Regions from separate parts of the Homo sapiens genome. Here all the other regions are linked to region 2. The links come from fine-mapping of genetic effects on gene expression. A gene starts in region 2. Each other region holds a variant in brackets. All regions are shown on one strand. Distances are between the middles of the regions.

Region 1 (10,608 bases), 57 kb before region 2:
CTGGTCCCTCCTGGGAGCACGTGTTTATCCCCCATGGACAATGGACGTGAGTCTGGCCCTGACCTCAGGCAGTGCAGTGACCTTGGGGAGGAGCCATGAACGCCACAAGCAGTGCAGTGACTGCCTCAGTAGAGCCGGCACAGAGAAGCTGGGGGCATCCTGGGAGGCTTTCTGGAGAAGGTGCTATCAGAACTGGGTCTGGGTCTGAATGATGTCAGGGCAATGTGGGCTTTGAGAGAAGGGGATCCCAGGCAGAAGGGGCAGCAGTGAGCATAGCCACAGGGAGAAAATGGGGTGTGTGGGGGGAGAAACCGGTGCATGTTGCTGGAACATCTGGGAGATGCCAGAGAGAATGGGAAGGCTCTGCAGGGCCTTGTGAGCCTCGAGGGAGGTCAAGGCTGCAGTGAGCTATGATCATACCACTGTACTCCAGCCTAGGTGACAAGGCGAGATCCCCATCTCTAAAAAAATTTTATTTACAAGTAACGCATGGATTTTTGACAGCAAGGGGGTTCAGCGTGCCTTGAACCCCTCGTTGTTCAAGGGCCAAGTGTAGTAAAATAAATGAGACAGGGTCTGTAGTGGGTGCTGCAGGTGCCCCCAGGTCCCACTGGAACCCTTTAGGGAGTCTGTACAGCCCTCCCCCTGTCTCCATGAGCATTGCTAGTGGCTGGCTTCTGGGAGGACAGTTCTGCAGCTTCTGAGACTCACTCCTCCATCTTGTGCACCAGGAGCCAGAGGGGTCTGGGACTCTACCTTTCCAGGGTCCAGAGCCCCCACAGGTCCTCTTGGGATCAAGCTGAGGCTGGAACTCTGTCCACAAGTGTCTCCCTTGCTCAGGTTCTCCCCCTCCTTGATCCTCTTCCCTGACTCCCTTAGCGGAAGCCCCCTGGGAGCACATCCTTAAAACGTCCTAATCCCTTACACACAAGGCCACGTCTTGGGGTTACTTCTGGAAGAACCCTACCTAAGACAGTTTCTTTTTTCCTTGCAGACCTTATCAGAGCTTTCGTCATGCTATGGTGAATAATGATTTCCCGACGGAGGAAAAGTATGCAGTGTTTTGCAAAATTGTTTAACAACGACCACCCCCTTTACCAGAACCTGCCTGAGCTAGTGTTTTCACTGGGCTCCCTGAATGCTGCCTGAACTAATAAAACAGAAAGTTTGAACGAACTGTTCAAGGTTGCCCAGCAGCTCCGAGGGATCGCTTCGCCTCCCTTGAATGCACCCGGGGTTATTGTAGAAAGGGGTGGGAAGTGAGAAGAGCTACATTTGGCCAAAGAAGTGAAAAAGCCTCATTCCAAAGAATTGTAAAATTTATTGTATAAGTATTGCAGCTTTTCAGAATGTCATCATTGCCACTAATGATTACTGATACACAACAAGCAGTTTCTTCAGGCCTGTGGATTGGCATCCAAATACAGAGTCTTACGCAGCGGGGACGTGGGTGCGCGCCCCGCATGCCACGGAAAGCTTACATAAGTTTAACTTGAACAGAGCTTGGGAAATGGGGCTGCAAAGGAGAGCAGTTCCCACGCCAGGAACCAACGTGAAAGCATTGGAATCAGCACAACAGCCATGGAATCAGGCAGGCAGGGGAGGACGGGCTGTGTCCTTCTGAGCTCTATAGTACAGCAAGATTTCAAGCAGTTTCCAGAAAAACAACAACAACGACATTTTCTTTCCTTATCGACGGGATATTTTATGGTTCTGGAAGCTTCGTGTTGCACATAGGAAAAAAAATTTCTCTGAAACGTACAATTCATAGGGACGACCAATGAGGACAGGGAATGAACCCGGCTCTCCCCCAGCCCTGATTTTTGCTACATATGGGGTCCCTTTTCATTCTTTGCAAAAACACTGGGCTTTCTGAGAACACGGACGGTTCTTAGCACAATTTGTGAAATCTGTGTAGAACCGGGCTTTGCAGGGGAGATAATTTTCCTCCTCTGGAGGAAAGGTGGTGATTGACAGGCAGGGAGACAGTGACAAGGCTAGAGAAAGCCACGCTCGGCCTTCTCTGAACCAGGATGGAACGGCAGACCCCTGAAACGAAGCTTGTCCCCTTCCAATCAGCCACTTCTGAGAACCCCCATCTAACTTCCTACTGGAAAAGAGGGCCTCCTCAGGAGCAGTCCAAGAGTTTTCAAAGATAACGTGACAACTACCATCTAGAGGAAAGGGTGCACCCTCAGCAGAGAAGCCGAGAGCTTAACTCTGGTCGTTTCCAGAGACAACCTGCTGGCTGTCTTGGGATGCGCCCAGCCTTTGAGAGGCCACTACCCCATGAACTTCTGCCATCCACTGGACATGAAGCTGAGGACACTGGGCTTCAACACTGAGTTGTCATGAGAGGGACAGGCTCTGTCCTCAAGCCGGCTGAGGGCAGCAACCACTCTCCTCCCCTTTCTCACGCAAAGCCATTCCCACAAATCCAGACCATACCATGAAGCAACGAGACCCAAACAGTTTGGCTCAAGAGGATATGAGGACTGTCTCAGCCTGGCTTTGGGCTGACACCATGCACACACACAAGGTCCACTTCTAGGTTTTCAGCCTAGATGGGAGTCGTGTACAAACCTTGGCAAAAAAAGGTTGGAGGAGCAGGAGTAACCTCACCAAGCTAGGCACCTCCCTGGTAGAGACAGGGTGAGGACGCGCGAGGATGATGGGGTGTCTGAAAAGCAGGAGCCCTTGGTGGACCCTGGGAGGGGATACCAGTCCCAGGTGAGTGAGGCACTGTCCGGGAACGTCCTCACCGAGCGACGGGAGTGTCACTGCTTCTTCAGTAAGGCACTAGAGACGCGTCACATAAAGGAAAGATACGTTTTAATCATCTTTACAAGTGCGTCCTTGTACCTTTCGGGATAACCTGTACTGATTTCTCTGCAGGACCTTTTCAAAGAATCCTCTTCAAGAGAGAAACAAATTTTAGGCTGACGACTTCACGGAGAGGCAGGTTCTGCTGTTGCCAATGAACGAGAACTTTCTACTAGGCTGGCGGCATGCAGAGCCCACGTCTGTCAGCTGCCACCTTCGTAAAGCACACGTTTCACATGCATGAGCTCGAGTGGCTAGAACTTCAAAACTGTGCTCAGGTTTTTGTTTTGGAAGTTATAAAAAAGTTGCTCACAAACAATAGTTATTGCCTTTTATATCTTTTATGTTAGTCTACTAGTCAGCATTCTGCCCAAAATGGAAAGCCACTCCCATGGGAAGGGAGGGGGTAGCAGCTGGGAGTCTGCTCTTCCAGCTGGGGGCCCTCCCACCCCCATGGGGAGGAAAGACGTCAAGCTCCAGCCACTGGCCCCGGTGGGTCCCAAAGCCCCACCCCTCATGCTCTCCTCTGGTCACCTCTATTTACGCTCACATGCCCCTTCCTGTCCTTCACCTGCACGTCACCAGCAGGTCCCGCCAACCCCAAATCTATCTGGTGAAAACCTGGAGAACAAGAGCGGAGTCTAAGAGAGATGTAAATGAAAACACAGATCAACAGACACACCAGAAGGGAAGCGTTGTTTCCGCGGGGAAAGGAGATGGAAAGGGGAAGAGAAGGTGAAGAATTCTGCGCCCGAAGCTCGGGTTGGTGTTTGCTCAACTGCTTTACTCATTTTAACCCTTTCACCTATCCTGGGAGAAACCCAGGCTTGTCACCTTTTCATGTTGGGTTGTTTATTGGCCTCTTAAGTGAGAATTGATCCGTGAAGGGAAACAGACAGGAGGAGGTCAGATTGCGAATACCTGGGGCTTCCTAGGGTCCAGTGCGGCAGTTACCGCACCTGCCTTCACCGGTGAACCTTTAGCCAGCTGAACAACCACCAAAGCGCCCTGCAGAGACAAGTCATCGAGCCCTCTGGCATGTCCCTGGTAGCCCGGGCACCAGCCGCTGCGGCTTGTGAGGGGCACCATGCTCCACCCCACGGGGACCTTCACAGTTGGAAAAAAGAAGAGGAAAAACTAATTCCTTCGGTAACAGTTTATTTTCATTTTTGGGAAAGGCAAAACCACTACCTGGAACTCGGTGCCTCCGTGGTTAACTTTCCTATTTTGCTTGTGATTTAAAGGCTGTTCTGGGTCAGGGGGGAAAAGGTGTCTCCTTCGGTAGGGAATATATAACGTGGTGATAACCTGTCACTAGGCAGAAGCATCCACTCTGCAGGGACAGTGGCCCCTCGGGAAAGCCCGCCGCTCCTGGCCAAGGCCTCTCTGCAGACTCCACGGGGGCTCACCCTCTGCCGTCAGGCGACTCTGAAATTCCGACATTTCTCCCTTAAAGTCTCAACAGACACAAGAGAAGTTTCCATCAAGCAAGCACTGACATATTTATATTAAAAAATAGTGCAAAATCTCAACATTTATATAAATAACTCTAAACCCCTGCTTTGTAATTTTTTTCTTTACAAGGTAATACACACTTTCTGACTTGGCACTCAAAAATTGCCATTTTTTTCCTCTTCTAGTTCAGAAAACAACTTTTTTTTTTAATAGGCCTCTTCTAATACAAAAATACTCCTGCCCTCGCACATACAGTTTCTCTTATCTTATATATATTTATATATATAATATTGCAGATCTTTAAACAAAGGTTTTGTGCAAATATGTCTTTAAAGTTAAGTGAAATTATCATAAACAAAAGAAAATAAGCATTCACGCACGCAGCTCAACTAGAAACAAGAAAGACTACTGTAGAAATTTTTTTTCTTTTGCCTTCAAGACACAGCTCAACAAAGAAACGTGGTTTTTTTTTTTCTTTTTTCTTTTTTTTTTTGCAAGCTCTCTTAGCTTGTGCATTCAGACCAGACATCACATGTAAATATTTATACACAGGGAGGTGGGAGGGGAGGGCCACACGATGCGTTGCTGCGCCCCCCGCCTTCCTCTCACTCCTCTTCTAAGAAGCGCGGAGTGTTCTGCCTTTTCACCTACGCAGCCCCAGCCCGGCCCCCCTGGGGACCCTAGAGAGGGTGTCCTTTCTGTTTATCCTTCTCTTTGCTCCAGATGGCTGCGCTCTCTAGGGGCGCGATGTGTGTGTGGTGGAGCCGGGTCCCCTCCAGCAAGGAGGGCGGCCCACTGCTCTGCTGGTGCTGGAAGGAGGACCCCGGGTAGTGGCCGATGACCTCGCTGTAGGTGGGCGGCGGCCCCTCCATGCGCCCGCCGCTGCCGTAGCACGTGGCGCTGATGCCCGAGTTACTGCTGGGGGGGCAGGGGCCGCCCAGCCTGGCACTATCCATCAGGTCACTGTCGAAGATGGTTCTGTTTGGGGGTGCGCGCACCGACTCCCGGTTCAGTTCCAGCTGCTGCTCGGGGTCCCGAAGCTGGAGGGTGCAGGGGCCCTGGTAGGGTGGGGGCTCCTCCCCGTCTGACAGCGAGATGGTGGG[T/C]GGCAGGTCGATCTCGTGCTGCAGGTACGGATAGGTGGGCTGGAAGCGGTGGAAGCGCTCCCGCTGGGCGAAGGGCGGCACGGCCAGGCGGTCGGTGGGCCGAGGCGGGGCGTAGACCTGCGGCTGGAGGAAGCAGAGCGGGAGTGAGGGAGGGCGGCTGTCTCAGGTGGGTTGTCCAGAAGCGATCCTGAGACTGGAGTTCTGCTGCATGGGACTTGGCTCTCTGGGGAAAGGGAGAGGGCAGCAGGGCTGGCGGGGGCGGGAGCCCAGAGCCTGATCCCGCGGGGGCCCTGGCCTGGGGGGCAGCACTGCAGAGCTGCACCGCCCTCCTCCAAACAGTGGCAGCGTCCGTGCTCCCGTGTGCAGAGAGCAGAGAGCTGGGCTGCTCCCTCAGGGGCAGGGAGCAGATGATCTCCGGCAAGGAGGATCCCAGCAGCAAGGGCACTGCAGAGGAGGGCGGAGGGGTGAGCCTTTAGCAGCCCACACTGTTCCAGCCGCAGCGGGAGCAGCCCAGGGTGGGATGGGGGTGTTGGAGGGGAGGCCGAGGGAGGTCTCACCTCTGGGATTCCGTTGCCTGACACTGTGCTCTCCGAGGGCCACAGGCATCCTTCCTGCACAGGAAGAAACGTACAAGCAGGGTCAGTGGGGTGGGCAGGAGGGACAGCAAAGGCTCAACCCAGATTCGACTCTTAGGCCTTTACCCTGGAATCAGCTCTTGAACCCGCCCACCTCTCTGCATCGGAACCAGCTTCCCCAGCCCCTGGCCCTGGGCGCTTTTCCAGGACGTGAGCGCAATCACCTCCTCACTGATCCCTGAGGTGCCCTCTGCTGTCCCCTGAAAATCCAGCCTGACACTTTCCAAAACATACACCCACTTGTGGGGCCCCCTTCTCAAAGCTGCCTGTAGCTTCCCGTGGGCCTCAGTGGCTTCTCACCAGGCTGAACATGGCCTCAGCCCCTCACCCCTGGCCCCACTCCCCTGGGCCTGGGCCCCCTGCTGGCTGTGTGACCTGCGTCAAGTTACTTAATTTCAACGCTGCAGTTTCTGTACCTGAATTACAGTTCTTGAGATTACAGTACTTGCCTCATAGTTGCTCAAGCACTTGCTGAATTTGAATGTAAAAACCACCCGGAGCCCACGTGGCACTCAGGTAGCATGTGAATGTGCTGGGTGTCACCTCCACACTCCCACCAGCCATGCTGACCAGCCCCCTGGGGCCTCAACAAGCTCAGCCCGAGCCCCAGGTCCTTTACACGGCAGGCCAGGCTGCACGGCCCGCTGCTGTCCACTTTCAGTTCCAGCGTCCCCTGCAGACCCTTGGAGACCAGCATCTGAAGGGCCTCTCCCGTGAACCTTGTCATCTGTTGATTCCCTTTCCAGCACCTGTCCTAACTTAATCATTGCTTCTATGCATTTATTTCTTTACAGTCTTTCTCTCCCTTGATCTAGTGAGCCCATCATTACTGATGTCCCAGTTCACAGGTGAAAAACAGGAGAGTTGAGGAAAGTGCCCAAGGCGGCTGCTCTGCCATAAAACAGTGATTCAGCCTCTGGCAAAGGAGGTGTGTGGTTCCACTGTGGCGCCAAGCTCTGGTCTGGGTGCAGGGGCACAGCTGCCACTTCATGAAGCTTATGCCATCTGCTCTGAGGAAAATGAGACCCCATGCCAGGACCAGTTCCTCTGAGTTTCCCCAAATGCCATGACGGTGAGCCCTGGGCCCGGGGAAAGGGATGTCTGTTACTTTTATAGCTTCATTGAAATATAACTGATATGCAAATAAATGGACATATTCAAAGCATACAATTTGGTTCGGGCATATATTTATACCAAGAACCTCTCACCACAATCAAGATAATGAGTATGTCCATCACCTCAAACGTTCCCTTGGGGCAGGTTTTTTGAGGGTTCCCAGGTAGGATACCGCTCACCTGCAGCCTGGGTAGGAACGGCCAGAGGGTGGTAATTTCCCATATGGCCACTAGGAGGCTCTGTGGCCCCTCAAAACTGTCCCGTCAGGACCGCTCCTACCCCTTAAGGAGGTCTTAACTGCCTCGTCTCCTGATTTAGCGAATGGCTCTGATATTCTTCAAGTTGCAAAGCCAGATCCACAGGATCATTCCTGACAGCTCCTCTCCCCACCACCCTTGTTCCACCCACCCTTGATCCCCTCTCACTTCTCCTTCTATTAGACAGTTCTATCCACCTCTCTCCCCAGCATCTGTGCCTAGTGGACAGCAAAGTCCTATGGAACCAGGGCCTCCATGTGCAGACAGTCCATCTGCAGCCTGCAAAAATGCAGATTCTGTAGCAGGAGGGCTGGCGAGCCTGCGTGTCTCACCATCTCCCAGAGGCTGCGAGTGCCGCTGGTCTTTGAGGTCCTTGAGGGGTCTCCCAGGGTCTCCTCCACTCTTGCCCTTCCCCAGGGCCCTTCCTCCTCACAGAAGTGGGAACATCTCCCTCATGCCCCCCACCCCACACCCTGCCACTCCTCTGCTTAAACCGTCTGGGCCCCCCGCTGCCTCCAGGAGAGAAAGTTCCAACCCCTTACCGAGGCCCATACCCCCTAGATGTCCACGGCCGTAGTATAGCTGTTTCCTTTAACGGGTTTTCCTATCTGTATAGCGGGCTGATGACAGCGCCTGCAATGCACCATACAGTGTGTTCTGCAAGGTGCCCAGTGAACACAGACTCTCACGTCTTGCCTTTGGATCTGAGCCCATCCTGGGTCTGGACCAATGGCCCCTCTTTCCTCCCTTTCCTGAAGAACTTTGACTGGCCCCTCAAGCCTCTGCCCAGGTGTGCTAACCCCAGAGCTCTCCGTTAGCCCCCCAGGCGGGTCAGGCACCTCCTCCCATCTCCTCCAGTCCCCTCCTGCACCACAGCCTTTGTCCCTCTGCCCCCGGTGGCCTATTCAGGGGTCTCACTCGCCCTGCAGGAGCTGCTACCGTTTCCCCAGTGCCAGGCGCCGGCGTGCTATGCAGTCAGGGAGTGCTCAGGTTGCTACTTAAGTGCGGAAGTTGCTGGGTGACCCGTGCAAGTCATCTTTGTGGAATTAGGTTCCAAAGTGGCTTGAGAAGTCGGGGGAGGTGGGCCCAGCTTCAGAATTGTCTGGAACCTTCCCCAGCCTCTGGCTATGTCTGCCAGTCACCCCAGGTGGAGGACAAGGACAGGTTCCAATCCTACAGCCACTGCTGACGAGCCCCCTGCTCCCAGCAGCCTCCAACCACTCCCAGACTCCCAGGGCTCGGGGTGGACTCCTCTTCTTTGAAGTGGGCGCACCCAGTCCACCTGCGCCTTCCCCATTTAGATGCTTCTAGACCAAGGGTCTGAAAACTGTTTCCATAAAGAGCCAGAGAGTAAAATATTTTCTGGTTTGTGGGCCGGCGGGTCTCTGTCATACCACTGAACCCTGCTGCTACAGCCAAGCGCAGCTATGGGCAAAACGCACTCGAAAACACTTCATTCACACTCAGAAAAGACCTCATTGACAAAACCAGGCAGCCGCAGTGAGCTGACGCTCAGGCAGCTCCTCCCAGACCCCTCCAGAGTCTTAACACCACGAGGCCAGAACGTAGCTGCCCATTCTTCCCCTGGAGTCCCCAGGAACATCCAAGGGGACGGGATGGCCTTCTATCAAACTTCGAGGACTCAGAGATGTTTCTAAAGAATAAAGAGATGTTCCTAAAAAATTCGGTACCTCCCATGTCCTCAGGAGATACTGAATTCCCCCACAGCCCAGCACAAGGGGCCTGGGGGAATTCGGTATCTCCTGAGGCCATGGGAGTGGACGCTAGGTCTTTGGCTCCCGCTGCTGGCAGATTGTCGCACATTGGCCTGGCCACAGTCTTGTCCCTGCCCCTGGGAAATGGGCCCTTGGTGGGCTGGGTTCTCTCGGGAGCAGGAGACCCACACTGAGGACTGATTGGGGGATAAAGAGGACAAAGGGTCACCCCATCCAAGGCCTGAGTTCCTAGTCTGAGCAGGCCTTGGGCACAAAGACTGGGATTGCCTTTCTGGGTAAACCTGAAGTCTGCGCCACTCCGTGGCTGGGCGGTCACTGCAGTGACGTTCTGCATCATGTCCCGAATACCCTCGGAGCAGCGCCAGGGTGGAAGTGCCATCCCTGGTCGAGGGGCTTGCCTGCACTGGAGCCTCACCCTCAGAGGGCAGATCCTTGCCCAGTGTCACACAACAAGGAGGTGACAAGGCCGAGAAAAGACCTCAGAGCTCAGGGTCTTACCTGAGATGGTGAGGCAGGTGGGTGAGGCACGAGCTCTTGTCTCCATACAGGCAAGAGGGGACCCCCAGGGTCACCCTGAAAAGGGGCCATGGTCGGATAGCCATGCCAGGGGCAGAGCATGGATGGGCTGGGGGGATGTAGACTGGGCCCGGGACAGATAAGAGCTGTATGTGGATCTCTATGGAAGGCCGCGGGGCCCAGGGACTCCTGTCTGGCAGGGGGTCCCCAGGGGAGCTGCCACATTCTGCTTTAGGCCTAGTGAGGCTCCACGTTTACCCAGCCAGGCATCCCGGGCGGCTGTGCAGGCGGCTGGGTAGACAGTGGGAGGAGACTTTCTATTGGCCGAAGGTGTGACGGAATCCTACCCCTTCCTGGCAGCAGGATCCCAGGTGCCGTCTCCTGCTCCACAACAGTGAAGCCCCTGCAGTCGGCCTCTGGGTACGGTACACTCTCCACTAACTGCATCCTCCCCATGACCACGGGCCGCACAGGCCTAGCTTCAACCCACTGTGGAGATGCACACACTGAGGCTCCGAGGGGCAAGGTGAGTCCAGCCTGGAGTTAGTGCCCCTCCAGGGCTGGTGCCTTCTGGAATGTCCAGGCACCGTCACTCTCCCCAGCACTTGAGGGAGGACGGAATAGGCTGTGGGCTCTTCACACCGGCAGTGACAAGCAGTGTGGCCTCCGGCAAATGTTCCACCTCTCTCATCCCCAGTTTCTCCTCTGGAAAGTGGGGTGAACCCCTGAAGTCCCTGATGGCATCCCTGGGCAGACGTAACCAGTGCTTGTTGCTGGAGTGGTAGCAACAGCAAATAAACACGTCGGGGCTTGAGAGCAGCAGGTCTGCAGCACGCCCTCCGGACAGCGTGCTGGGACGCACAGTGGGCCCCGGGTCTGTGGGCCAGGCATTCCCATCAGAGGTCCCAGGGCTGATGCTCCTTGCCCTGGCAACCTGGTGACGCACTGAGGCTGGGGCCTGATGCAA
Region 2 (10,608 bases):
CCCATGTGGCAATGGTGGGCTGAGCAGTGGCCACAGTGCCTTTAAACTGGACTCTTGCCCCTGGTTCCCTGGAGCCCACCCCAAAGACAACTGAGTTTGCTTCCCTGAACCATGCTCCCCCAGCCTCGGGGAGCCCCTGGCACAGCATGGTACCATCCTTGTCACTCCAGAGGGTGCATGAAGAGTAGGTCCGTCTCCCGCACAGCTCCCGCACGTGCCCCAACCATGCGTGCGTTACGCAACACTTTGTAAAAAGCAAAAAATGGGCCCTCGGCTTCAATCTCCTTCTCTCAGCATGTGCACCGTACAGAACCCGAGGCTGGCAGCAGCACAGCCTCCGAAATTCACCGTGTAAGAGTTCCTTCTCTTTGGGCAGGATCCCAGACACCGAGGTGCCTGCAAACTTGGTCTCTGGATGCTAACACCTGAAGAGAGAAGGCCACACCGATCCTCAGGTTTGGACCCTGCCACCAGCACCTTCCTCCAAACATTTTCTGGCTTTTAAACTATTGACCGGACTATAAACGTTTAAACCCCCTGGCCCTGGGCCACGATGGGAGTGGAGATGGTGGGGGCAGGCATGTGGGCACACCTGACCCCGTGGCTCTGGGGCAATTTGGTGGCGGGTGCATCTTGCAGCATGGAGGCTTCCTTGGGGCTCCTGAGGGAGGCAACTCTGCTGTAGACGCTTCCAGCCTCCACAGACCTCCCGACGGCCTCCCTTCTCCTGGGCAGCGGCACACAGGGGTCCACCTTCCTTCTTTTATGGAGAGGGTGCATACCTTCGCACCTCTTACAGGGGAGAATGTGCACTCTTCCTCCTTTTCTTCTTACATGCCCAGAAGTTTTAACCATTCCCAACCCAAAGAGAAGAGGGCAGGAAAGACAGATGGGGTAGAAGCTGTGTGTGCCTGTGTATGACTGTGTGTGCGCGTGTGTGTGTCTGCACGTGTGCGCATGCAAGCACCCACTCACAGGCGCGTGTGTGTTTGTACAGGAACAATTAGTTATTTTGTGCTTTGACAAATGCTAAACTCACCTCGACCCTGGGTCACACTGGGCAGTGTAGCTGGCTTAACCCAGACCTCCTGGGAAGCTGAGGCCAACTGTCTGACCTAAGATTCGGGTCATAGAACTCAACTCCCTTAATAACTCCCCTATTGCACCACAACCTAAAACCCAGACAGTCAGAAAACCTGTGGGTGAAAAGTCCCAGGGTTTAGCGGGTCCACAGGGGAGAACAGCTGGTGTTGGACATCTGTATTTTAACCCCAATCCAAAACATCAGCTTTCACTAACGCCAGGGTCTCTCCTTAGAAAAGCAAATCCAAGACGAAAACGGGAAAACTTCATCTCAAGAGGAAGCCCCTATCTTTCCTTCATGGCACACAACAGGCACTCAGTAAAAGCTGAGTGGATGAGTGGCTGCGGAGTGGCCACAGGCCTTCACAGGGACGAACGTCTGACGGGAATTAAGGGTCTCCTGGCAACGCAGATGCTGCCCTCTGGCCCTCAAGCCCCTTAGGAGAAACCACTAACTGATTAAACAGTGGTCTCAGTAGGGGGCATTTGACCATGTCTGGAGACATTTCTGGCTGTCAAACCTGGGAGAGGGGTGCTGGTATCTAGTGGGTGTGGGAGAGGGGTGCTGGTAACACCTTACAGAGCACAGGACGGCCTTTCCTGCCCCCCAACAAAGAATTACCGGGCTCAGAATGTCACAGTGCCAAGGCACTGTCTCTACACCCTCACTTGATTCAAGCAAGTGTCAAACAGCATGTGCCAGGCAAGCCCAGGGAAACCTGGGTGTCCTGTGAGTTTCTGATATTTTCTCATATTTGTTTGGAAAAGGTTGGAGAAGAAGAATCAGAGGCTCGGTGACTCTGGCCAGTGGGTGATGTTAAAAAGACAGCTGCCACCGTAGATACCACCAGAGATGGGCCCAGGGCAGGGGCACCTCCCAGAACTCTCAGGAAACGCCTCCCGCGTGAGCAGACACCGGGTGGCCCCAGGTTCAGTCTTTCCCGAGAGCGAACTTAGCATCCATCTGGGCCCCAGAAGTTTGAGGCAATAACCAGAGGAGAAAGACCGGGGGTAATCTCTGAGACGCAGCAGAACTGAAATGAGGTAGATGAGGTTGCCAGGAAAACCAGGTGCCAGGAGTCCTTTCCTCAAAAGTAGCCGCTTCAAGCTCCAGGCTGACATCTGCAAGGCTGTCACTCGTGCTGCCTGCTTTTAATCCCAGGACCCTTGGCTTTTTAAAAGAAAGGGTTTTCCCACGGGTATGTTTTGGGAACACTGAATTCCCACCAGACAGCAGCCTCATCCCTCGACTCTCAGAAAAAATGGGGCCCCAGGAGTGTCCTGTTACAGTCAAGCCCACTCCATTCAGCATCCTGAGAGCAGACGTGGCTCCCGGCGTACAAAGGGGCTCTGACAATTTCCCCCAGCCCCCAATTTCAAGGAGGACCTGCTCTGGGGCCCAAGTACCAAATTCAAGAGGTGTGGGCGTGCAGTCCAAGAGAAACCACCCTGGCCTGGGGCTGGTGTGGGTTTTGGACCTCGGGCAAAACTTTCCACGGTGGACTTTCCTCATCTGTAAGTCAGGGATGTGAACCCCGAGCTTGCGTAGGCTCCTCTCAGGTCTGAAATTTGGGGTAGCTGAAGACCACACAGGGGAACCAGCAGTGGGTGGGAAGCCCGGTCCAGCCTGAAGACCTCCAGCCAGGCTCAGCAGGGGAGAGGCCCTATCTTGAAAGACTATAGAATTCTAGATTTCATCCATCACGGCCTCATTCTTCAGATGAAGACAGTGAGGCCCATCATGGCTTAAGGACCTAGCAAGGTCAATTTCCTTCTGCCAAAAGAAGGTATCTTACAGGATAGGAGCCACTTGGACACTGCCTCAAAGCCCAACTCCAAACCATCCATCAAGTTCTCGTTGCAAACAACTCCCAGCATGTACTAGATGAAAAACAGCAGCCACTACTAGTTAAAAGAAAAACCAAATACTAGCTTTTTTCCTTTCTTTTTTCCTTCCCTCCTTCCTTCCTATCTTTTGGTGTAAAGAAACTCCAGGAGACACCAGGCCTTACCACTTCCTCACCCTAGTCTCTCGGGGAAATCTGATGAAAACAAACTGTTACAGTATACCTGCATTTTAAAGACTGGTTGGTTCCCTCCGTGCCTTGCAGCTTTCTTCCAATAAGTAGGGGGCTGTGTATACACAGAACACAGGACTAACTGGGGCACCCAGGGGCCAGCTGGAACAGGCTAGGGTTCCAGGTATTAACCCCAAGGGTCCCAATCACTCAAAGGCTGCTGGCGGCGGCGGGGCAAAGTGCAGAGGGCGGCGGCAAGGCATTTAACAAGAGGCCTTGATGTCAGGTCAAAAACATCATGGACTGATGAGCCTAAGAAAGGACAGAAATAAGAACAATGCTTTTTTTTTTTTTTTTTAAGTCCTGAACCATAAAGAGAGACAAGAGCAAAATGATGCACTGTGCCCAGCCCTTGGAATAAGGGTGACACAAGGATGTGTGCCCCTCGAGCAGGAGGTCCTCAAGGCAGCTTTACAGAGCGAAAGGCAAAAAGTGAGGCAAGGAGGGCACTGAAGCAGCAATCCATCTAAGGCAAGACTCTCCAAACGTGTGCGAACGTATTTTAATAACATTCTCGTGCATTTCATTAGCCTCCTGAGTTCACAAAGGGCCTCTGGGAAGGCAAGTCGGTTCCGCAAACGCTGGCTCTGGGCAGGTCCTCCTGGCACCTCGCTAGTCTGGCACAGGCCAGCTAAGGTGGGGTAGGGGGAGAGCTTTCCATTCCAGGCTGGGAGGGAGTGTGGAGAGGTGGATGGATGGAAGGACCCACCACCAAAGCCCGGCCAGCCTGGTTATTTTTACCACTTGAAGCTCACTGTATAGGCTCAGGGGCCACAAACTGGCAGCCGCCTGCGGACACTTGCTTATGAGCCGCCCAGACACTGCCTTCATTCCACAGCGGCTGCTTCTCAGCTCCGGGCCCCAGCTAGGGGCAGCCTGGCCCCCAGCAGGGAAGGACTGTGTGCCCCTTCACCTGGCGTGCTTCTTCAGGGTGGGGATGGGGAAACTAAAGCTCAGGGAAGCAAAAGGTCCCCGAAAAGGTGGGCTGGGGGACAAGGTGTAGGCTAGAAGCTAGAAGCCAGAACCCGGGAGGTAGTGGTTCAATTCTCCACTCAACCAAATGTCCACCTAGGTGGGCTGTGTGTGCAGGAGGTAGAGACTTACTTATCTGAACTTTTGGGTGCCCAGGCGGCTGCGTTAGCGACAAGGTTCAAAACCCCACTCCCCACCGTTGGTCCACTGATCCCTTATTTAGGGCCAGGCAGTCCCAAACACAAACAGCCCCAAACTTTGACTCCTTTGTAACCATGGTCTCAGCCAGACTGAACCAAGCTGTCCAGACAGAGGCTATTTATAGGTGCGTCGGGGACACAGACACTGGCACAATGACACACACACATTCAAGATCCACGCTGGGCCAGACGGGCCAGAGCTGAGCCCTGGATTCAGACACCTGGACACACACGGTCCCCAGATCCGGCCCAACCAGACCAGACCCCCAGAAAGATGGACACGCTCAAGAAAGGCACCCCGGCCCGGACACGGGAAAGACACACAGAGAGAGGCAGGAAGACTCGGTGACACGCACTCTTGGGCAAGACCGCGACTCAGACCCCCAGACACCCCGAGAGACGCCGAAGACCCAGACAGAGCCACGCAGCCACGCACACTCCACAGACGCACGGACATCCACTCAGAGCCCGAGACACAGCGCCGCGAACACTCCAGACACACGCCCGGAGCCCCAGACACCTCGCAGACCAGACAGTGTCTCACACGCCCCTCCACCCCCGCCCAAAGTTGATAAAGAGCCGGCCTAAATGCTCCATCGCGACTGCCCTCAGGGAAATAAAATGGAAACTTCACGGATCCGCCCGCCCCAACCCTCCCGCGCCGTGCGCCGCCGCTGAGCCCCGGGTCCGAGTCCGGGCGGGCGGGGCGCGGACAGCGGGGGCCGTGCCAGGCTCGCAGCGCCGCGGGACAAAGCCGGGCCGGCCGCCAGCTGCCGCGAGCCGGGAGGGCGCGCCCGGGGCGCGGCGGGCGCTGCCCGGGCGCAGGGCGTTCGGTCCGAGGGGGCGCGCAGGGCCCGGACCCCCGCTCGCAGCTGTGCCCCGACATAGGGTCCGAGCCCGATGGAGTCTCCGGGGAGGGGGGCGTGGGGTCACTCACTGATCTCCATGCTCTGGAACAAAGAGCGTTTGCAGTTGCACGTGCAGGAGACATTGGGCTGCCCGGCGGCGGCGGCGGCGGTGCTGTTGACCCCCATCAAGCGGTGCATGGACGGCGCGGCGGCGCGGCGCGGGGCGCGGGGGGCTCGGGGGCGGCCGGGGGGGGCTCCGGCCGGCGCCCGGAGCTGGGGCCCCGCATGCAGGAGGCGCGCGGCGGGGGAGGCGCGCCCCGGCTCGCCGGGCTCGGGTCGCCGCCAAGTTCCCGGGGCGCCGCGGGGCTCAGTGCGCGGGACCGCGCTCCGCTGCGCCCCCCCGGCCTCCCCTCGGCAGCCCCGGGGGCGTCGGCAGTGCCCGCGGGTGGCGTCCGGAAAATGGGCTGGCAGCGGGGCGCGCGCTGCCGCCGGGGCTGAGCCTCTGCCGCTAGCTTTCCCCAGCCGAGCGCCTCCGCCGCCGCCGCCGCCGCCGCCTCCTCCTCCTCATTCAAGTCCAAGGAGATCGGGTTTCGCTCCGAGACCGCGGTCGGAGGCAGGCAGACGGTCTGACGTCAGCGCTAGACGGGGCTGCCGGTTCCCACCGCGCGGGGGCCGGGGAGGGGGCGCGCGCTGCGCCAATCCCCGCCGAGGTTCCCCCGCACCCCCTCCCCGAGCCGGGGGGCGGGGTGACGGGAAACGGGGCGGGCTCTTAAAGGGCCAGAGCTAGGCGGCCCACGTAGACCCGGCACCCGCGCAACGGAGGAGGGGCGCTGTGCCCTCTCCCCAACGGCGGTCAGCTTGGAACGCCTGCCCGGCGCACGCCCGGGGCCGGGGAGCCGAACTCGGTGCCAGCCGCACCCGGGCGGGTTGCTGGTGCGCCCTCCCCTCGCCCCCGTCCCTGGGGTCCTTGACCCAGGCTCTTGGGGCTAGCCTATCTTCTGAGGAGCACAAGGTCCCTGGGGGCTCAGGGAAGAGAAATTGGAGAAAGGGGGAGGAAGCCCCCAAGATGGATCACCCATTGCCTGGTTTCGCAGGAGACTGTCCGCCTTCAGTTCTCCAGCAGCTCGGGGATCATGGCCCACTGAACCCCCAAGCGCTTTCACCCGAACCCAAGGAGGACGACCAGGAAAGACGGGAACTCGCGTAGACACGCCCGGAAGCCCTTGTCATGTAAATAGCTGTCGGGGACTGGTGTATTGTCGCCGCCCCAGCCGGCGGGACCTGGGGCGAATCCACACCCATTGTCTGCTGCCCAAGGGGCCTCCGGCTGGGGGGCGCGGCTGCGGAGTTCAAAAGGGGTATGAGCAGGAGGGGTGTACTTTTAGTTCATTAAGTTTTAATTACAGGAGTGCTACAAGAACACATTCTTCAGGTTTAAAAAGATATTAAAATATTACATAAGAGACCTCCCCTCCCTGGCCCACCTCCAGCCTCTTAAAAATTTAGTGTGTCGCCTTTTAGACACTTTCTCAAAGCTTCACTTATTTAACAGGCACTTAAGGAGCACCTACCTGTGCCAGAAACTCTCCAAATATTAACTCAACCTGACACCGACTCAGTGTGGCCGAATATTACTCTCCCCATTTTACAGAGCGGGCAGCTGGTCAAGGAAGTCGCTTGTTGAAAGTCACACAGTGGTGGAGCCTGTGTGCCAACCCAGGACCCTGGGGAGCTGCCTCCCCCTCTCCCACGTAGTCCTGATTCTTTAAGTGTCCACATATTCCTGTAATGCCTGGAGTTTCAGTAATTAGCAGGGACTTAGTGTGTTCAGAGAAAAAAAAAGCTTTTAAAAATTATTGTTACTGTGTTTGTAACAGTTTGGATAGAGAAGGAAAAGCTGGAATTTGGGAAGTGAAGGTGGCCTCGGGGTAGAACTTACCTAGACCAGAGCGAATTCATCCTGAAGAACTCAGAGAAAGCCGGTGCAGGAAGTGGGTTCCCGCTCTCCCTGCACAGGCACAGTGATGCTGCCAGAGCTCTCCCAGAAAGACCAGGAGGCTTGTTCTGGAGAAGTCAAGCCCAGGGATGTGGCTCAGGCTGGTCCAAGCTCTTTGGAGGAGTCCAAGCGTGCCCAGCCCAGAGGGAGGTTCAGAGGCACTGACCGTCTTCTGTTTGGGAGGAGAAGCTCACTCTTGGAGCCACAGCCAGCACTAGGTCAGGACCCAGGCCCCGGCCCAGGAGTGGGGCAATACCCAGCGTCTACCCCAGATGGCACCCTGCTGTGAACTGGGCGCCCTCAGCCCCTGCCTTGAGGAAGGGGCAATACCACCAGCGTGTCTTTTATCAGGGAAGATATTGCTGCAGTTTGGCCGCTGCAACTTAAGAGAAAAGCTAAGGGGTCCCCCAGCATCCCTTGGGGTGCCACTGCAAATACTGGCTGGGCCTGGAGATGACCTGGGTCCCATTCACTTCCTAGGGTGAAGGAGGTCATCATTACCACCCCTGCTTTCAGCCATTTCTTCATTCATTCAATCAACAAACTGGCTGAGCTGCAACCCTGAGCCGGGGAATTCAGCCACTCCAGACACAGCCCCTGCCCTCCGGGAAGTCTCGGGAGACCTGGCTAGTCTGGCTGGGAGAAGTCACACGTTGATTGTCTTGGAAGTGAGATGGCATTTACACAATGGAGGCTGCACTGCCAGCAGGCAAAAATAACCAGTTAATTCAGTGGCTTAAAGAAACCAAACCTACCCACAACGCTTGACCTCCCATTGATCCATCTGCGACACCGGCAGTGGCTACCATTTATTGAGTGCTGATGGTGTCACCTGGGATTGACTTAGTGGTCTCTGGCGCTAGTTCCGAAGTTGATTCTGTCTGGAGAGCTTAATGCAGTGTTCAGACCTCAGGGTCCGAACCTGAGGGTCACCCAAAGATGAGTGGGACATAGCTGTGTGACCTCGGCTGAGTGCTTTCACCTCTCCAACCTCAGTTTCCTCTTCTGCAAAATGGGGTGGCTTCATGGCACCTTCACGTGGTGTGATTGCGAGGAATGAAGGGATCGATGCCTTGCAAGTAGAGGAGAAGGGGCCGGATACATCTTAGTTGTTATGTTATTTAATCATCTTGGCAACCCCGGGAGGGAGGAACCACTATCATTTTATTTTCCATTTTGCAGTTGAGGACAATGATGATTCCAGCACAGACAGGGCCCCTGACGGGGCAGTAGGAAAGGAGAATTGCTTTGGAAGGAGCATAGGCTGGACTGCCAGCACTCATAGGAGGCTTCGTGTGTGCCCAGGACTGCGAGAATTAAATACAGGACACCCAGTTCAGTTTGAATTTCAGATAAACTATGAATAATGATTAGTGTAAGTATATCTCAATTTAACTGGATAGCTTGTATTTTTCTTTGCGAAATCTGATAACCCTAGATGTGCCAGGGACTGTGATGCTGGCATTTTGGGCATGAAGGGCAGAGCCCACTGTCAGGCACAGGCAGAGAAGGTCACAACTCCCTGATTCTACCCAGGAGAAATGGGCAGAGCCAAGGTGTTAATGGGCTGAGGAGGGAGGGCTCACTGCTGGGAGTGGGAGTGGGGAGGGGGCACCGCGATTGGGCAGGCCTGAGTCCCTGGGAAGAATGCCACAAGTCAGAGGCAAAAAAAAAAAGGTTTTGTTCACTCATTGAACAAACATTCTGCTCCTATTCAGTGTGAAGCTCTGTGCTGGGTATGGGGCACAGGGCTGGGAAGAAAACCAACTCCCTGACCTCGTGTGACATTGTGGGGGACAAAGGGACTAAAGACACACACACACATGCAAACTCATAGCTCAATGAGGTCAGGAGGTCATTTCAGACATGGTGATAACAGGCCAAAGGCCAGAGTTGGGGTGAGATCAAGGAAGCCCTCCCTGAGGAGGTGGCATCTCATTCCACCTGCAGTTACCAACCACCCACAGGTGCAGCCCCAGCCATACTGAGGCTCACAGGTGAGGCTGACATCACATGTGTAAAAAGATGAGTCCAGGTGATAATTTCAGAGAGGGACGAGACCTGGGAAGAATATAAAAGGAGAGGGTTTGGAGGCGACTTGAGCCCAAAGGGTTGGGCCTCCTCTCTGGGGAGATGTGGGCTGGGCATGTAGGGGACAGTAGAGAGGGGATGCCAGGCCAGTGGGGGCATCAGGAACTGGGAGACTCTCATGGTCCCAGCAGGTTTGGAGTTTGGGACACATTTCTCAGCCTGGCTGTGGCCATGGGGTTGTGAAATGGGTGTGTGAAGCAAATGGATTGTGAAATGGGTGACTGCAGAGACAGGCCTTTCTGGGACTCCAGACAGCGTGTGCCACCATCCGCCCTGCCCATGGGTTGAATCCGCGGCCGGGGGGATTTTCCAGAGGAAACGTCCTGTTTCAGCAGGTTAAGGGGCTTTGCTCCCAGCAGCGCCGCGCATCTGTGCTCTGCTGGACTTGTGTGCAGAGCCAGCTTCGTGGGAGTGTGACCCCCCTGCACTCTCCAGGGCCCCATGCTCTGAAGGGTCGGGGGTTTATTGTATTATTTTATTTATTTATTTTTTAGTTTAATTTTTTCTACTGTTGACATCGTGAAATTCCTAATAGTTAACAGTTTCTGAACACGGGGGCCTGCAAATCTGTAACCAGTCCTGCTCAGATGCCAGGCCCACACTGGCAGCCAGTTGGGACCCCATGGAAGTCAGTGTGGGTTTTGGCCACAGCTGAGGGTGGCTGGCAGTGTTCTGACTGTGCCCGCTGGCCGAGGGTGGCTGGCCACTGTGGAAAGTGCCTGACTGAGCCAACAAAAGTCCTGCTTGGGGAGCCGGTTGAGGGGACAAGGCAGAGGCCCTCCTCAGGGCCAGCCGTGCCCCTGTCTGCCTGCCACCCCCGGCCTGCCTGGACGGAGCTGCCTCTGCAGAATTAGTCTTGGGAAACCTTAGGCAGATTAATGACCTCCCCTCCCAACTTAGCACCTTTGGAAACACCGTCCAGCAGGGTCATTTTCTTCCTCAGGTTGGGGTTAATTGGGGCTGTCAACTTTCACAGGTTAGCAACTTTGGATTTCATTTTTTTTGTCTTGTTTTACTTTTAAACACTAGTAAGAGCCAATGTTTATTGGGCACTGCCCATGTGCCATGCCAGGCCCTGTTCTAACCACTTCACATTCTTCCACTTAGTCATTCCACAAATATGCATTGGGATCCTACGGAGAGCCAGAAATGAGCTCACTGGATCCCCACGACAACCCTCTGAGGTCCAAGCTGATATTATTCCCATTTGACAGATGGGGACACTGAGGCTCAGGGACCCAAGGATGAGGTGGAGCTGGGATGTGAATCAGGTACTTGGGCCCTAAAGCCCATGGGCTGGCCTCAGCAAATGATGCCTTCTGCACCCTGTCTCCCTCCTC
Region 3 (10,608 bases), 980 kb before region 2:
TGATAAGTGTGGGGCCAGGGAGAGAAGGGGTGCTCTGGTTGCTTTTAAAAAGGGGCTTTGACCCAGTTTGCCAGGGATGTCTTTGCTGGGGGGAGCGCCAAAGCTTGAGCAGACTTTGACCAGATGCAAAGCAGAGAGAACAGTGTCCCAGGCAGAAGGCCGATGTGTGCCAAAGCCCAGAGGGGGACAGAGGAGCCTCAGGCCAGCATGACAGTGCCCTGTGAGGGAGGGGCAGGGAGGTGGGAGAGGAAATGCTGAGGTCCCAGGGCTAGATTAAAAAAATGCCGCCTATGGGCCAGGTGCAGTGGCTCACGCCTGTAATCCCAGCACTTTGGGAGGCCTAGGCAGGTGAATCACCCGAGGTTGGGAGTTCGAGACCATCCTGGCCAATACGGTGAAACCCTGTCTCTACTAAAAATACAAAAATTAGCCAGGCATGGTGGCAGGTGCCCATAATCCCAGCTACTCGGGAGGCTGAGGCACGAGAATCGCTTGAACCCAGAAGGCGGAGGTTGCAGTGAGTCAAGATTGTGCCACTGCACTCCAGCCTGGGCGACAGAGACAGACTCCATCTCAAAAAACAAACAAACAAAAACTGTCACCTACAGCCACTCAAAGATTTCATCCTCGGAGCACTGTAAAGCCAGTGACCGAGTTTAGCAGGAATTAACTGACGCAATCAGTGTTCTGAAGAGGTCACTCTATTCTCTTCTGCCGCCTTCCCTCCCGTCCTACCCACTGGGACCCTCGGACTGGTTCCAAGGAGCAGAGAGGCTGAGATTTACCACGACGTGACAGAAAGGGCTGTCATTTCATTTGAGCCAGCCTGCTGCACAATGATTGTCATCTTGCCAATTACCATCCTGTTTCCAAAAGCACTTTATTGCTGGAGGAATGAATGGGGCTCGATATGGCCTTATATAACAGTTGGACTTCCCTCGCCGGCTTGAAAACAGAGCTCCTGTCAGACTATCAGCCCATAAGAGCATGCCTTGGATCTGATAAACAGACGTTGGCAAATGGGAGGTTGGAAGGTGGTGCCAAGCTCTGTGGTTTGGACTGGTCCTATGAGCGAAACAATCGAAGCAGCTAACCATCTGCAGGAGGGAAAAGAGGAAGGGAAACTCAGCCTGAGACACAAAGAGGAAGTGTGGGAGACAGAGGGGCCGCAGTGGACGAGGTCCCAGTCCCAGCCCCGTTACTACAGCCTTGCAGACTACTGCCTGCCCACCAGCAGGATGCCACGTTTGTAGGGCGAGTAGACGTTCTGTTGATTTCACTAACCTTCCTTCCTGTGGTGCCTCCTTCAGGAATAAAGGGGTGGATGAGGTTGCAAGGATGGAGATGGGAAGGAAGATTGGTGGACAATTTTGTAGAGAGCTTTTGCGGATGATGAGTTGCCCTTCGTACTTGCTGATGTTCACTTACAAGCTGTAAAGCCTTTACTGCTGTTGCCATTGGATGGTTTTGGACTGAGCTAGGCACATTCTCTTGCACAGGGCTACTTGAGACCATGGCCAACTTGTCAGAGGCTTGGCTGCAAGTCTACCCTGCTGGCCTGTTAGGAGTTCAGGGAACCACACAGAGACCCCACTTGGGCATACTTATAGGACAACATCTATCATTTGGATGGACAGCGGACAGAGACAAGATCTGCTCAACCAAATCCACTTCCCCAGCTTTTATCATGTAGGCCACTGTTAGGCATGTATTCTCTTAAATGCAGCCCAAAGCATCCCCAGTGAATACACCAGAGGGCCCCCTGAATATTCTTGCCAAAGCCTTTGAGTGTGCAAGGCCTTGAGCCAGCAAGTGAGAATTCCATTCCTTGTGTTATGCTGCCTTGGTGGAAGCAGTGCTGTTTGGCTCTTGATACAATGCATGGTTTAGAGAAGCAGCTCTTCAGATTTTATTCCTGGAGCCCTCTTCTTTTTAAGACCGATCATGTGGCTAGAGCAGGCTTCTCTGCCTGGGCACTGTTGACCTTAAGGGCGAGATCATTTCATGTTGTGGAATTATGTTCCATGTGGTGGGGCATCCCTGTCTTCCACTCACTAGATGCCAGTAACACTCTCCCCTAGTTGTGACAACCAAAAATGTCCCCAGGAGGCAGAACTGTTTCCTGTTGAGAACCTTTGGACTAGAGGAATAATCTGGAATCAGATTTGTATACAGTCTACCAAAATTCTGAGCGTCCTTCTCTCCTGACCTGCCTGTTTCTTTACCTGTGTCAAGACTGCCATGCGATCTTGGTTACATCCTCATTCACAGCTAGGATGACTGTCACAGGACTCTCATGCAGAGGGAGGGCCATCTTCCTACGGCCTCATTGGTTTTCCAGAAACGCTTGAGCAAATTCCGGGTCACTGCTGGGCAGAAGTGAGGACTTGAGAAAGTATTCAGACAGCTGCTTCCGAGCTCCTCTCACAGTTAGACTGAGATGGAGGACAGCTGAGAGGCTCAGTAATGTCCATGGATTTGGCCCCAAATTGGCTATGGAGAGTAGGTTGGAAGTTTAAAAAACAATAATAGATTTTCTTTTCTTTTTAGACAGAGTCTCATTCTGTTGCCCAAGCTGGAGTGCAGTGGTGCGATCTCATGTCTGAGTCTCCCCAGTAGCTGGGATTACAGGCGTGTGCCACTATGCCCAGCTAATTTTTGTATTTTTAGTAGAGATGGGGTTTTGCCATGCTGGCCTCAAGAAATCCACCCGCCTCAGCCTCCCGAAGTGCTGGGATTATAGGCATGAGCCACTGTGCCCAGACAATAATATAATTTCTTGTTAGAGGCCGTCACTCCTGGATTTGAGATGAGTTAGGTGTCAAAACCGGAAGTGGAGATTTGGTAGAGTGAAGAGGCATTTCCAGCACCCAAATGGGCCTTGAGAATCAAGAGACCTCATTGCAAGGAAATGGTCTTGGATGGGAAGTGCAGGCCCTGCCACCGGTGTGGCTCACTCTCCCCACAACGCCAAACAGCAGCCCAGTCTCAACGGGGGAACCTGGGTGTGTTGGGGTTTTTGTCTAACATCTTGGAATGATTCATTCATCTTCTGCTCTCAATCAAATCCACTGGCCTTGTTGAAGACCTTCCCATCATCACAGAACCCTGTTTTGTATAAAATAAATTGGAACCACTGGCATTGAATGGAGCAAAAAATAGAACTCTGTGAGAAATACTTGCTGTCCAGTAAGCCGGGGGCGGCTTTTCTTTACCAATGCCTCCTTCCCTTTGAAAACAGGAAGTCACCATGGCCAAAAGTAAATGAGTTTCCAGCCGGCTGGGTCAAAATCCAGACTCCACCTCCCACTCCCACCTGTGGGCTCCATGTCAACCTGCCCAACTTTCTCTTTGGGTCTTGACACCAGCGGCTGACTAAGCCCCTGTCAACGCAGCCCTCCTCTTTGATCTGAACTTTCTGGCACTGTCTCTGTTCTTGTTCAGAGGGAAGCTTCCATCTTCCTCCTCATGTCTCCTCTTGGCCCCCTTTCCTAATCCTTGGAGTGCAGGCAAAACTCTGAATGTGTTTTTTCCTCAGATAAATTGTAAAAAGGGGCAGGTGCCAGAGCTGTCCAGCCAGCACTCAGTATTCTTACCCACCCTGGCTTAGGGTTGAAGAGGAGAACTGTCTGAATTCTTCATACAGGTCTCTGACCTAAGACATTTCATGAGGTTTGTTTAATTACAGGAGAGTGAAAACCCTATGCAAACTTTCTTTTTCTTTTCTTTTTTCTTTTTTTTTTTTTTTGAGATGGAGTCTCGCTCTGTCACCCAGGCTGGAGTGCAGTGGTGTAATCTCAGCTCATGGCAACCTCTGCCTCCCAGGTTCAAGTGATTCTCCTGCCTCAGCCTCCCAAGTGGCCGGGACCACAGGCGTGTGCTACCATACCTGGCTAATTTTTTGTATTTTTAGTAGAGATGGGGTTTCACCGTGTTAGCCAGGATGGTCTTGATCTCCTGACCTCGTGATACACTTGCCTCAGCCTCCCAAACTGCTGGGATTACAGGTGTCAGCCACCGCACCCGGCCACAAACTTTCTTAGATAAACAAAGAAATTTATTGACTTATGTGGTTGAAAAGGCCAGTGGCTTCAGGCACGGCTGGATCCAGGGGCTGAAGGATGCCATCCGGAATCATTCTCTATTTCTCTCTCTCTTTTTTCTGGAGACAGGGTCTTACTTTGGCCCCCAGGCAGGAGTGCAGTGGCACAATCACAGCTCACTGCAGCCTTGACCTCCTGGGTTCAAGCAATCCCTGCCTCAGTCCCCCAAGCAGCTGGGAATACAGGCATGCTCCACCATGCCCTGTTAATTTTTGTATATATTTTAGAGATGAGATTTTGTCGTGTTACCCATGCTAGCCTCGAACTTCTGAGCTCAAGCGATTTGCCTGCCTCAGCTTCCCAAAGTGCTGGGAATCCAGGCATGAACCACCATGCCCAGCCATTCTCTATCTCTCAATATTGCTTTCCTCTCCTGGCTTTCTTCTAAGGCAGATTGTGCCCTGTGAAACCCTGACCACCAACTTTCAGCTTACACCCTATCACTGTAGAAAGTCCAGGCAAAATGCACATTGGACAGGCAAAAATGGTGGTGCTGCTGCTGGTCACTACCCAGACAATAGATGTCATGCAGCTGCCTGTGCTTGTTTTGTTTTAAAATTTCTCTTTATGTTTTCTGGTCCTTCTCAAACTTTGAACAGTGAACATGGGCTTAGTCAGAGATATATTGGTTACAAACAGCAGACACCTACTCAAACTAGCTTAAGCACTAAATACTTTCTTTTTCCAGGGATTTAATGGTCACTTGGGAAATCAAGGGCAGGTAGTGAGGCCTGACTTTGTGGAGATTGTCAGAGGAAATCAGGAATCCATTAAGAATCAGCACTGTCATCTCACTTTCTCTTCATGATCATTCGCCTCTGATCATCCTCCGGCATTAGATCCAGTCTTCCTCTCTGTCTGATTGTTTTGCTTTTCTATGCTGGTGAGAGGACGCCTCTTAAACAGGTACCCAGAGGTAGAGGTGGCGCTTGGGCTTCCGGGTACCTCTTGCTGGGATCTTAACTCACTGCAACCTCTGCCTCCTGAGTTGAAGCTGTTCTCGTGCCTCAGCCTCCAGAACAGCTGGGACCAAAAGTGTGTGTGGCACCACACCAAGCTAATTTTTTTGTATTTTTTAGTAGAGATGGGTTTTCGCCATGTTGGCCAGGCTGGTCTCAAACTCCTGACCTCAAGTGATCCGCCCAACTCGGCCTCCCAAGGTGCTGGGATTATAGGTGTGAGCCACTATGCCCAGACTAGAGTACTTGTTTACCAGGTATTTGAAGACTAAACAGACAACAGATTAATAACCAAAACAGCAGGTGTAATTTTATAAATAGAAAAATTAAAGATCATAGAATTAGCAGTACCAATGGCTTAAATAAAAATCCTAGGCCAGCACGGTGAAACCCTGTCTCTACTAAAAATACAAAAATTAGCCGAGCATGGTGGCAGGTGCCTGTAATCCCAGCTACTCCGGAGGCTGAAGCAGGAGAATCGCTTGAACCTGGGAGGCACAGGTTGCAGTGAGCTGAGATCGCACCACTGCACTCCAGCCTGGGCGACAGAGTGAGACTCCATCTCCAAAATAAATAAATAAATAAATAAAAATCCTAGATAGATGATAAGAATTACTGATGAAAAATAAATTAAAATATTTTTCCTTCAAGCAGATAAAAAACATACTAGACAAATCACAAGATTTACTACTTTTAAAATCTTATTTAAATTTTAGAATAGTTTTACATTTACAGAAAAATTGCAAATATAGTACAGAGTTTCTATAGGCCCCACAATCCGGCTTCTTCTATTATGAACTTCTTACGTTACTATTGCATATTGTCATAATTAATAAACTAATACTGATGGATTT[T/C]TATTAACTAAAGCCCATACTTGATAGACATTTCCTTAGTTTTCCCCGTGTTGTTTCCCTACTCCAGGATACGACATGACATTGAGTCATCCTGTCTCCTTATGCTCTTCTTGGCTGCGGCAGTTTCTTAGACTTTCTTTGTTTTTGATGACCTTGATGGTGGGAGGCCAAGGTGGGTGGATCATCTCAGGTCAGGAGTTCGAAACCAGCCTGGCCAACACGGTGAAACACCCTCTCTACTAAAAAAAAAAAAAAAAAAAAATTAGCCGGGTGTGGTGGTGAGCACCTGTAGTCCCAGGTACTTGGGAGGCTGAGGCAGGAGAATCTCTTGAACCTGGGAGGTGAAGGCTGCAGTGAGCTGAGATTGCGTCACTGCACTCCAGCCTGAGCCACACAGAGTGAGACTCCATTTAAAAAAAAAAAGATGTTTTGTAAAACATACCTCAATTAGAATTTGTCGGATGTTATTTTCACCAAACAGACTGAGTTTAGGGGAGGAAGATCACAAAGGTGAAGCCCCTTCTCATCACATCCTATCAAAAAAGTACGCACTGTCAACACGAGTTATCACTGTTGATGTTGACCTTGATACCCTGGCTGTGGTTGAGGTTGTGTTTGCCAGGTTTCTCCACTTTAAAGTTACCTTTTTCCCTTTCTTACTTCTTAAATCAACCCCTTTCTTAACCTATTGTGTTTATTCGTCCACATAGTGTCTCTGCACTTGATGCATGACTCTGCATTTGATGCAAGAAGGGAAATAGAATGTCATACCGTTGTCATACCATTGAAATGCATTTTTCAAGACCATCCCGACCAAGATGGTGAAACTCTGTCTCTATTAAAAATACAAAAATTGGCCGGGCGCGGTGGCTCACGCCTGTAATCCCAGCACTTTGGGAGGCTGAGGCGGGCGGATCATGAGGTCAGGAGATGGAGACCATCCTGGCTAACACGGTGAAACCCTGTCTCTACTAAAAATATAAAAAATTAGCCGGGCGTGGTGGCGGGCGCCTGTAGTCCCAGCTACTCAGAGTCTGAGGCAGGAGAATGGCATGAACCCGGGAGGCGGAGCTTGCAGTGATTCGAGATCGTGCCACTGCACTCCTGCCTGGGGGGCAGAGCGAGACTCCATCTCAAAAACAAAAACAAAAACAAAAACAAAAACAAAAACAAAAACAAAACAACAATTAGCCAGGCATGGTGGCGCAAACTATAGTCCCCGCTGAGGCAGGAGAATCGCTTGAACCTGGGAGGTGGAGGTTGCAGTGAGCCAAGATCACACCACTGCACTCCAGCATGGGTGACAGAGAGACTTTGTCACAAAAAAAAAGAAAGAAATTCATTTACAGCAGAGTTTTTTTGTTTAAAAAAAAATTCCCCTTTTCAAAATATGTGGTTTTCTCAAGGGACGAGAGCATTCTGTCTAAAGCACTGTTGCCCTCAAAAAGAAAGACTGGAATGAGCTTTGGTTTCTTTTCCATTGTGACAATTCCCAGATTTGAATAATTCACCACAAGCGTAGATCTCTCCCAAGTCTCCAGTTTTCAAAGCACTTTGAATTTGTGGAAAAACAGAGTTATCCGGATGGTTGGGGCTGGCAGTTCTCTGGGGGACAAAGTGTGCTATAGAAATACATGATTGCCTAAAGAAACTGCTTTGTAAGCCTCCCTACAAGATAAGAGAAACTTTTTTTTTTTTCTCCGAGATGGAGTCTTGCTCTGATGCCCAGGCTGGAGTGCAGCAGCACCATCTCAGCTCACTGCAAGTTCTGCCTCCCAGGCTCAAGTGATTCTCCTGCCTCAACCTCCCAAGTAGCTGGGACTACAGCCATCTACCACCACGCCTGGCTAATTTTTGTATTTTTAGTAGAGACGGGGGTTCACCATGTTGGCTAGGCTGGTCTCGAACTCCTGACCTCGTGATCCGCCTGTCTTGGCCTCCCAAAGTGCTGGGGTTACAGATATGAGCCACCGTGTCCAGCCAGATAAGAGGAGCTTTTTTTTTTTAACAAACAAACAATCCTGCACCCAACTGCTCTGTGTTGGATTTAAGACTTAATTTAGATTATTATTTACAAATTTCCAGAGTCAAGTATATTTCATTTTTTATCAGTAATTCTTATCATTTATCTAGGATTTTTACTTGAACCACTGGTAATGCTGATTCTATGATCTTTAATTTTTCCTATTTATAAAACACCTCTGTGCCCCCAACAACTTCATCATTGTTTTTCTTTTTTTCCCCTCAAGCTATTTTGGAGCTAAATAAAAATTTAACATTCGGGCCGGGCGCGGTGGCTCACGCCTGTAATCCCAGCACTTTGGGATGCCCAGGAGGGTGAATCACGAGGTCAGGAGTTCGAGACCATCCTGGCCAACATGGTGAAACCCCGTCTCTACTAAAGATACAAAAAATTAGCTGGGCGTGGTGGCGGGTGCCTGTAATCCCAGGTACTTGGGAGGCTGAGGCAGGAGAATGGCGTGAACCCGGGAGGCGGAGGTTTCAGGTTACATTTTTCATATATGGCAGCCAACCTGCTTTGCTAAAGCTGCCAAATATTTCATGTCTAAAAAGGGAAATAAAAGACACTTTGAGGTATAAGGAAGTAGAGGACTAGATGAAGGATAATGCCGTTTTGAAGGGTGTGTTTATGGAAGGAAAATATTGTGTATTTTTGGGTGTTTGGAAAGCCCCAGAATGGTGGATTTTACTAATAGAAGTTTGTTGCCCTGCTCATGAGCTACTTTGCTTCTGTAGGTATCCACCAAGCTCCCAAGTGGGCTAGCACATAGTGCAGGCTGAAGAGTGAGCAGGATGAGTGAGCCCACGTCTTATCTCTGCAGGATCCTCTTCTTACACATTGACTTCATCAGCAGGCTTCTGGTGAAAGACAGTGATGGCAAGTGACTGAAATCCAAGATGATGATCCATTGGCTTCCCCCAAATCAAGGAGGGGCCAACTAACCAAGCCACGAGAGGCATGACACTGCTGCTGGGCCTCACGAATGGTCTGGAACCAAGGGATGGGTCGGTGATATTCTTCTGGCAGAAAAGGCGGGCATCAACTTGCACAAGGTAGACCTCTCATTGGCTCAGCTTGGGTCAGGTGACTGCTCCTGGACTACGGGATTGGTTCATCTGGAAACCGGGCTGCCATAGGAACCATAGGGTCCAGAGGGGCGGGGTATTAACAGGAAAACTAGGAGTTCCGTTTTCAGAGGAAGGAGAGTGGTCTGGGCAGACAAAACTGTTAAGGTCCATGACACTAACTTAATGATGAGCATATAAGTAGAAAGTTATAGATGTCGCCACGTCTGGTGTTTTCTCAGTTTTTTTCCTAGAGAGGAAAGTAAACATATTATTCTGTTTTAATAGGTTGCCAGGTGGCCCATCCTATAATCCCATATCCTCACGTTCTGTTAATATGTTGGTATTTTTCCTTCTAGTCTTTTCTTTTCTCCACCCCCCACTCCAGGCTATGGTTTCTTAGGCTGCCGGTTTTTGCTTTGCATGAAGCTAGACTGACTTTTGGGTTCTTAGCTAACTTCCAAATCTGTGAGCTTTTTTCAAATGAAGTTGGAATAGTCTCCCTAGCCAGCTATATTGACAGGAAACTAGGTGAAAAGATCTTTGAATAAATTGTTTGTCTCTGCTTGCCAATTCTAGTGAATCTTGAAATATGACTCTCAAAGAGACCATTGAAAATGACCTGGAAACTTTGGCCACTTGGTCCCATGAAATAGAGGGCCCCCAAAGTTTGGTATAACAAAATCACTTCCAAATTTTAACCTAGACATTACAGGCTGGAAGGACTGCAGGCCAAATGTGACCCAGATGTGTTCTGTTTGCCTCATACAGCTAAAAAATTTCAAATTAATTACCAACCTTTGAAATCAAGAGCTTTTATCTGAATTTTGATCTTCTCTCTAGATATGGGGAGATGTGGCCGTGCCTGGTCAGCCTTCCTGAACCACACATTGGCTGGATTGCTGTGGGTGGGGCAGACTTTGTTGCTACAGAACCCCAGACCCCGCTGTTACCCACTGGAGTTATTTACAAGGCCTGCCGGATGCCTGTACGTCAGTGGCTTCAATCCGGCCACTCTCATTGGCTTGCTGCTCCTGGAGTTGCCCATGCTGAGAACCGTTCTGTTCCACCCAGCCAGCAGCCAGTGGAAATTTCCTGACCCCTCCTGGGCCTGAAGCCCCAGAGCCAGGACCGGACCTTTGTGGATACTGATGGCTGGAGAAAATGTCTGTAAGACTCTCAGTAGAGAAATGCTAGGTGCAAAACTGCACAGGGCCTATCATCCTAGGGTAATTTAGAAATACGTGCATATAAAATTATCCCTATCTTGATGTTTCTGTTTGGGTTGTTACCTCTGTTCCCTGATCTTCATATCTACACCAACATTTTAACAATGTAGAATTCCGGTACATGTGCATTTCACTTCTAATTTACATACACTCCAAAGAATTTTCCAAAAATGTTCTCATTGCATATTTTGCTTATGTATATACACTCTTCAGCGTGCATGCCCTCCACTCCCATGCCTTAGCCACACCTCATCCCTAGTGGACAGGAACCCATTTCCACGCCCAGCTGTTATCTATACTTTATCCTGCACAGGTTGTACACACAAACCCTGCTTACTGCATTTTGTGCATGATTTATGGGATTTTCAAGAGTAAT

Direction of the effects. Positions count from the first base shown, and alleles are read on the strand shown. Sizes are in standard deviations (SD) of each study's normalised expression. Not every link is listed here.
As copies of C replace T in region 1, the expression in pancreatic islets of the gene that starts at base 5,812 in region 2 goes down (small effect, 0.36 SD a copy in PISA).

The links.
Region 1: its variant is fine-mapped to the expression of PMEPA1 in pancreatic islets (PISA, PIP 0.95). The same link has a PIP of 0.9 or more in fetal neocortex.
Region 3: its variant is fine-mapped to the expression of PMEPA1 in fetal neocortex (Walker 2019, PIP 0.95).

What each region holds. Positions count from the first base shown.
Region 1 is chr20:57,647,095-57,657,702 of GRCh38, forward strand. It overlaps PMEPA1 (prostate transmembrane protein, androgen induced 1), which reads right to left. Exons shown (of 4, transcript NM_020182.5): 3 at 5,939-5,992; 4 at 1,302-5,504. The coding sequence ends at 4,959. Among named protein-coding and RNA genes, the nearest start is that of ZBP1, 32 kb to the left of the region's middle. RefSeq lists a silencer at 7,336-7,415 and enhancers at 7,609-8,208, 8,209-8,806. The variant T/C (reference allele first, on the strand shown) is at 5,382.
Region 2 is chr20:57,704,204-57,714,811 of GRCh38, forward strand. PMEPA1 (prostate transmembrane protein, androgen induced 1) reads right to left here and starts at 5,812. Exons shown (of 4, transcript NM_020182.5): 1 at 5,271-5,812. The coding sequence starts at 5,379. It overlaps NKILA (NF-kappaB interacting lncRNA), which reads left to right and starts at 5,980. Exons shown (of 1, transcript NR_131157.1): 1 at 5,980-8,577. RefSeq lists enhancers at 509-1,103, 4,194-4,805, 7,866-8,477 and silencers at 5,644-6,073, 6,094-6,213.
Region 3 is chr20:56,721,187-56,731,794 of GRCh38, forward strand. No RefSeq gene overlaps it. Among named protein-coding and RNA genes, the nearest start is that of TFAP2C, 97 kb to the left of the region's middle. RefSeq lists an enhancer at 929-998. The variant T/C (reference allele first, on the strand shown) is at 5,917.